Linked DNA regions of Homo sapiens. The protein of the gene in region 2 interacts with the protein of the main gene of each other region in a biochemical or structural test. Each region holds a gene or a part of one and is shown on either strand. Other genes may lie near its edges.

Region 1 (3,807 bases), on a different chromosome or scaffold from region 2:
AGAGCCCAGTAAGAGACCCAGCAGGAGCCACTGGCTCTGCTGGAAGTTCTTAGCCTTGTCCAAGTAGGGTTGTACCTGCTAGGGCCCATTCCAATGGCTCCCCTCACTGGAGCAGTGAGCCAGCGCTGGATTGAAGTCCTCTCTTGCCTGCTTTCTCTCCGCAGGTGTCAAGCTAGGGATGCGGTCCATTCCCATTGCCACTGCTTGCACCATTTACCATAAGTTCTTTTGCGAGACCAACCTGGACGCCTATGACCCTTACCTGATTGCCATGTCTTCAATTTACTTGGCCGGCAAAGTGGAAGAGCAGCACCTGCGGACTCGTGACATCATCAATGTGTCCAACAGGTAATGGCATTTGGCTGGGCTCCTGATCTCCACCCGGTGGGGGGGACGGGCAGGGAAGGCTCCTATGGGGCCCTGCCCACCAGGTGCCAGCAATGGAGCTTGGAAGGAAGTACCTGGATGGCCTTGAACCAGGCAGGGCCAGAAACAGTAGCAGCAAACGTGAGAAGGAGCCTGATGTCAGAGGCCAGTGGGGTCTGTGAGAGAAACGCTGGGCCAGATTATGGGGAGCCTCGAAAGCTGGATGGAGGGCAGAGGCGGGGCTTCAGCAGAGGGAGCTTGGAGAGGCATGTCAAAGAAGATTCTGTGGAAGTCTTAGACAGGGATGGCTGCAGGCAGAAGAGCTTGCCTGCAGCGGGAGGGTGCAGACCCAGCCAGGTGGTAGGTCCCAGTTGCTTAGGAGCCTCGCCCTGCTGTGGGTGTGGCGTGGGCATGGCACAGCCGGCCCAAGCAGGTGTGTTCCTGCTGGGGCAGAATGCAGGGTCTTCGCCAAGGCGAGGGAAAGACGGTCTGGGAAATACAAAACTGAGAAATGTTCACTTTTTGGAGTATATCATTCCCATGAGAGGCTTAAACATGTTCCTTGGATGGCTGGACGTGGTGGCTCACGCCTGTGATCCCAGCACTTTGGGAGGCCGAGGCGGGTGGATCGCTTGAGCCCAGGAGTTCAAGACCAGCCTGGTCAACATGGTGAAACCTCGTCTCTACCAAAAATACAAAAATTAGCCGGGCGTGGTGGCGCATGCCTGTGGTTCCAGCTGCTCGGGTAGCTGAGGCGGGAGGATCGCTTGAGCCCAGGAGGTCAAGGCTGCAGTGAGCTGTGGCTGCACCACTGTACTCCAGCCTGAAAGGCAGAGCAAGACCCTGTCTCAAAAAGTAAAAAGTAAAAATAAGTTAAAAAAATACGTTCCTTGGGCCCAGAGTGAGAGCCCCGGGCATTGCCACCTCAGGTGATGAAGACTCCCTAATGCCGGGCTGAGTATAACAGGAAGCACAACCGACTTGGCATGCTCAAGCTTCCGGTTCCTCTGGAGCCATCGCCAACAGCCAGTCTTTGCACTTGACATTTTGCTGAATGATAGCGGACAGCCCATCTGGCTAAAACTAGGAGCTGGCTTCTTTCCTCTGTTGGTTACTGTTTTCATTCTCTACACTAGATGTGGAGATGAAGAATTTTTGTATAAAAACCCAAATAAAATGACCCTCCATGAATCTGCAGATGGACGATGTAGTTTGCATCTGGACATTGTGTGACTTAAGCAATTTGAGCCATCCAGTGCTCAGGAGACTGCCCTGGCTGCTGAAGCATTGCCATTTCTCTGCGCAGGTACTTTAACCCAAGCGGTGAGCCCCTGGAATTGGACTCCCGCTTCTGGGAACTCCGGGACAGCATCGTGCAGTGTGAGCTTCTCATGCTGAGAGTTCTGCGCTTCCAGGTCTCCTTCCAGCATCCACACAAGGTACATACTGGGGAACTGGTGCCTGTTTGGAGAGGCTCAAGCCATGGTCTCTGTTCTTTATCCCAAAAGTGCATCCCATCTCATACTCGAGAGCACAGCACAGAAGGAGAGCAGGGCTGCGGCTGGGAACTGGGTCTCCTGGCTCTGTGTTTGTGGCTGGGTTGGCCGCCCGGCCTCTCCCGTCCCACCCCTGTGGGTTTTCTCAGCCAATTCTCATTTCAGCTTCTGCCTTTCTGCCTGCTCACCTGTGGGCGGGGTCCGTGCTGCCCGCTGAAGCTGTGGCAGCTCCTGTGGTCCATATAGATGGTGTGCACGCTGGGCCTCGGGGAAGCAGGCTGGTTTTGTGACCGGCCAGAGTCCCCGTCCCCAGGGGATGCTGTGATGCCTCGGAGCACGCCTCCAGCTCAGCTGTGCTTAGGAAGCCATGGGGAAAGCCAAATCGCTTGAGTCAAGCAGCATGCTTTAACTTCTAGGAATGTGTGAGTCTCAACAGAAGAACCATTTCAAACAGCAGTAAAAGGGAAAAGTGGAACGCTTAGGCGACTGGCACACGATGCTCTGGGCACCGCAGCTCCATGCACGGGCAGCTCAGAAGGCTGGCCGGAGACAGAGATGGAGGAGTTGTGGTTTGGGGCTCTGGGCTAGGAGTTTCATTCTTTTTCATCGGAACTCTTCCTGAGATCATTGTAGATTCCCATGCAGTTGTGACATGTACCCTTAGCCCAGTCTCCCCCAGGGGTAACACAGCCAGGATGCCAAAACCAACACAGTCCACTGGCATCCTCACTTCCACTTGTATTCCTGTGTGTATATTTTTCTGTTCCATTTTATCACGACTCCGTTCACGGACCTACCACCACAGCCAAGGTGAGAGACGGTTCCACCCGCATGGGCCCTTCGTGTTGCCTTTATAATCTTGCCTCCAGCCTTCCACACTCCCACCTCAGTACCTGGAAAGCCCTGGTCTGGGATTTCTGCGCAGTAGTGTCTTAGTGGGCAGAATGCTTGCTGAGCATCCTGGGGGAAGGTGGGAGATGCCCTGGTGGCTGCAGGGTGGAGTTGTCAAGGCGACAGGGCTTAGGAAAGAGCAGCACTCAGACCTCAAGGGGTGTGTGATCTGTGCCCAGATGGGGAACTGATAGCTTGGTGTGGCTGGGAGCCTGCCAGCCCCTTCCCCTCCTTCCAGTCAGGGCTGGGGTGGAAAGTAACCTATGTATCCCTCCTGCATGGTGTGCTGGGGTCACACGCATGTGTGTTCCAGACTGTCCAGAGAGCTCGCAGCATCTGTCTTATTGTGTGAGGTTCTGGCAAAATGTCAGTGTTCTGAGAGCAGGAGCTGGCAGCTGGGCTGGGAGGTCATTTGGATGTTGTGGCCGAGGACAGCATGTGCCCTTGGCAGCAGGCCAGATGCATGGGGAGCAGCACCTTCTGTTCTGCCCATGAAGAGGGTGCTTTCCGGAGCACCAGGCCCCGAGGAATTTCATGGTGGCCAGAGCGGGCCCTGTGGTGGAGAGGGACTGTGGTGGGGGTGGCCCTCGTAGGTTTCCCTAGAGCTGGGTCTGGAGGGTGAGAGTGGGCAGGTGCATACGGTGAGCTGGTTTCAGGCAGAGGGCTCAGCAAGTGCGAAGGCCCTAGATGGGGTTTGCTGGAAGGCAGGGTGGGATCGGCAGGAGATGGGGCCAGCAGAAGGCCTTGGGGCTTCTTCCTGAGGGACATGGAAGCTGCTGGAGGGTTGGAGCAGGTGCTGATATGATTATGTCAGCATGAGGAGAGCAGCTGGTGGGCCTAAAGGCTGACACACGTGTCTTTGCAGTACCTGCTCCACTACCTGGTTTCCCTCCAGAACTGGCTGAACCGCCACAGCTGGCAGCGGACCCCTGTTGCCGTCACCGCCTGGGCCCTGCTGCGGGACAGCTACCATGGGGCGCTGTGCCTCCGCTTCCAGGCCCAGCACATCGCCGTGGCGGTGCTCTACCTGGCCCTGCAGGTCTACGGAGTTGAG
Region 2 (3,807 bases):
TGGAAACCTTCAGGTCCCTGTGATGGAAAAACAGTGGCAGGTGGCTCCCAGAGGGCCACAGGGGCTGAGAGCTCCCCCACGGCACCAATGCCCGTAGACTTCCTGCACGTTTCCTCAGCTTTGGGCTTTTTAGTATCTTTTTTTTTTTTTTTTGAGACAGAGTCTCACTCTGTCGCCCAGGCTGGAGTGCAGTGGAGCAATCCCGGCTCACTGCAAGCTCCGCCTCCCGGGTTCACGCCATTCTCCTGCCTCGGCCTCCCAAGTAGCTGGGACTACAGGCGCCCGCCACCACGCCCGGCTAATTTTTTTGTATTTTTAGTAGAGATGGGGTTTCACTGTGTTAACAAGGATGGTCTCGATCTCCTGACCTCGTGATCCGCCTGCCTCGGCCTCCCAAAGTGCTGGGATCACAGGCGTGAGCCACTGTGCCCGGCGTAGTATCTTTATTATTTTTTTTTTCATTAACTCTTACATGCTGTTGATGTTTGGACCTTTTAAAAATCGGAGTGCATGCCTGGGTGTGGTGGCTCCCACCTGTAATCCCAGCACTTTGGGAGGCCAAGGTGGGTGGATCACTTGAGCCCAAGTGTGTGAGACCAGCCTGGGCAACACAGAGAGACCCCTTCTCTATTTTAGAAAAAAACACAAATGGAGTGCGAGCAGCGGGCAGGCTGCTGCAGCTGGGAACCCCTGAGCTTTTAGTAACTCCACAGGGGCAGCAGAGTTAGGCCTCAGCCGAATTTGTGCTTCCAACTCTGCCTAGCTGTCACCCACCTGTGGATAATGAAGTTCCTGTGCAGATACTGGAGGCCCCGGAGCACCTGCAGCACGATGCACTTGACCTGTGCAGAGGGTCAGAGGTACCAGTCAGGGTGAGCCTGCAGGGAAGCCCAGCTGGGCCCTGCCACACCCACACTGGCCAGCAGGACTAGCAGTCCCAATAGCCCAGGAAACCAGTGCCCTCAGAAGGCTCTCGGCCCCGGGGCTGCACGCTCCCAGCAGCCCAGGAAACCAGTGCCCTCACAAGGCTCTTGGCCCCGGGGCTGCACTCTCCCAGCAGCCCAGAAAACCAGTGCCCTCAGAAGGCTCTCCGCCCAGGGCTCCCCGCTCCCAGCAGCCCAGGAAACCAGTGCCCTCAGAAGGCTCTCAGCCCCGGGGCTGCCTGCTCCCAACAGCCCAGGAAACCAGTGCCCTCATAAGGCTCTCGGCCCTGGGGCTGCCCGCTCCCAGCAGATGCCCCCACCACAGGAATTCCACCTCACTGAAGCTCGCTGAAACACTGGGAGGTGGAGGCAGAGGCAGCAGCAGCTCTTCAAGTCCCCAAGTGCCCTGTTTCGTTATAAATGTGCACCACAAGGGCCCATGAAGCCCATTCCCCCACCCCAGGCCCCTCTGCCACGCACCTGAGCCTCCGAGAAGGGTGTTGGCATATTCTCCAGGAGGCTGGCCAGGTCCTGCTCACAGTAACCCATCACCAGGAAGATGCTGGAAGAAACAGAAGATGCATGCCACTCTCCGGCCTTCTCCTAAGGGGTGGAAGTGGAGCCTCCCCTGCTGCAGGAGGGGACATGGGCAGGACAACCTGTGTCCCCCTCAGACAATGGGCTGAGCCAGGCGGTGAGGTGGGGTCATCTCTTCTCTGACAACCTCATGCCCAGTGACACTCAGTCCTCGCTCTGTGCAACACCTCTAGCCCAAGACACATGCTCCCTAGGGCCCAATGTGCAGACCAGGAGACCACGTACCTCTCCAGGTGGTTCCCCACAACCACCTCCTTCAGCTCCACGATGTTCGGATGACGCAGGCGGAGCAGCAGCGTGATCTCCCGCAAGCTGCTGATGGGGATGCCTGGGGAGGGAGGTGGCCTCAGCGAGCCCCACCCCAGTGATGGCGGGGAAGCCCCAACCCCAGCCACTCTTGGGCTTCACGAACACCTGATAGCAGGTGCTGCAGTGTCCCCACCTCAGGGAGAATTGGGGCGACCCCAATAAGCATTTTTTTTTTTTTGAGACGGAGTTTCGCTCGTTGCCCAGGCTGGAGTGCAATGGCACCATCTCGGCTCACCGCAACCTCTGCCTCCCGGGTTCAAGCAATTCTCCTGCCTCAGCCTCCCTAGTAGCTGGGATTACAGGCATGTGCCACCACGCCTGGCTAATTTTGTATTTTTAGTAGAGATGGGGTTTCTCCATGTTGGTCAGGCTGGTCTTGAACTGCCGACCTCAGGTGATCCGCCTGCCTCGGCCTCCCAAAGTGCTGGGATTACAGGCATGAGCCACCATGCCCGGCCCAATAAGCACTTTTAACTCTTCCTTGACCAAATACGAATCGGCACCTCTCTAAACACCGTGGACATCTATGTGGGGCATGGCAGGGCCCTGCCTGCACAGGCAGGTGCTGGGGGTGGAGGGGACAGCAGAGCTGAGCCTGCAGTGAGGTGGCCTCACCAGACAGGAGGGGGAGGAGGGGATGGAGACTGCAGAGCCCTCCTGGCAGACAGCTGAGGCTGCGTGTGGACCTGGGGGTGATGTGCTGGGCCACACCAGAACCCTCCCAGAGGCCGGCCCCCGCTACAAGCACCGTGCAGTCGCTCTGAGGAAACTTCAGGTAACTCACATCCTTCTGCCTCCTCCCAGTGCGAGGTCCCAACACCCCAATTTCCTGCTCACCATCCTTCTCCTTGTCCATCCGCACCTTCTTCAGTGCGACAATCTCATCTGTCTGGGTGTCCCGGGCCCGATCTGGAATGGAAACACATTGGTGATGACATCATCTCGATGCCCCTCGTGGGCTCCCTAGCGCTGAACGGGAGGCTCTCCCTGAGCCACAGGGGTCCCCGTTCTTTCCTCTGACAACCTCATGCCCAGTGACACTCAGTCCCCACTCTGTGCAACGCCCCTAGCCCGAGACGCGTTCCCCCGGAGGGTTTCCTCATTTGAACTGGGCAGGGGGTGCCCAACTTTGCTCTGTGCTGGACCCTGGCCTCCAGCCACTCAGTTCTGTGGCTCCAGGCTCTCCATGTCCTCCTTAGCATGCAGATCACTGCTTTGTGCTCTCTTGTAATGTCCTAAAAGCAAATAAGGTACTCTATGCAGAAAAAAGCAAACCTTATTTTGTGTGAAGATGGCTCTACAAAACATCCTGCTAATGTGTGCAGCTTCCAGAATGACCTACGCCAATTTCACATCTGTTATAACCTTTAGTTGTGTGTGGTGTTTTTGGTTTTTTTGAGACAGGGTCTCACTCTGTTGCCAAGGCTGGGGTGCAGTGGCGTGATCACAGCTCACTGCAGCCTCAAACTCCTAGGCTTGGCCGGGTGCAGTGGCTCACACCTGTAATCCCAGTGCTTTGGGAGGCCGAGGCAGGAGGATCATTTGAGCCCAGAAGTTCAAGACCAGCCTGGGCAACATAGGGAGATCCCATCTCTACCAAAAATTTAAAAATTAGCTGGGTGTGCTTATGTACTCTTGTGGTCCCAGATACTCAGGAGGCTGAGGTGGGAGGATCACTTGAGCCTAGGAGGTCGAGGCCGCAGTGAGCTATGATCATGCCACTGCACTCCAGTCTGGGCAATAGAGCAAGACCCATCTCAAAAACAAACAAAAAGAAAAAACACCTGGGCTCAGGTGACTCCTCCAGAGTTGCTGAGGTGATAGACATGAGCACCATGTCCAGCTCCTGCTGCTTCTGGAAAGTTCTGTATTTTATTTCTCTAACAGTTCTGTGTACTCTGCAGTGACACGTTTGGATTATGGGCATTAGCAACCGGATGCTTACGTTTACCCAGAAATGGTACAATGTTTGTGATAA

What was found.
Region 1: the proteins of CDK10 (region 2) and CCNQ form a complex in vitro, tested with the Homo sapiens proteins (one study listed by IntAct).

The regions. Positions count from the first base shown.
Region 1 is NC_000023.11:153,592,545-153,596,351, reverse strand, and holds part of CCNQ (cyclin-Q), read left to right. Parts: intron 1-164; coding exon 165-348; intron 349-1,672; coding exon 1,673-1,805; intron 1,806-3,618; coding exon 3,619-3,807. UniProt on the Homo sapiens protein: Activating cyclin for the cyclin-associated kinase CDK10.
Region 2 is NC_000016.10:89,689,484-89,693,290, reverse strand, and holds part of CDK10 (cyclin-dependent kinase 10), read right to left. Parts: intron 2,739-3,807; coding exon 2,667-2,738; intron 1,849-2,666; coding exon 1,746-1,848; intron 1,486-1,745; coding exon 1,404-1,485; intron 843-1,403; coding exon 775-842; intron 18-774; coding exon 1-17. UniProt on the Homo sapiens protein: Cyclin-dependent kinase that phosphorylates the transcription factor ETS2 (in vitro) and positively controls its proteasomal degradation (in cells).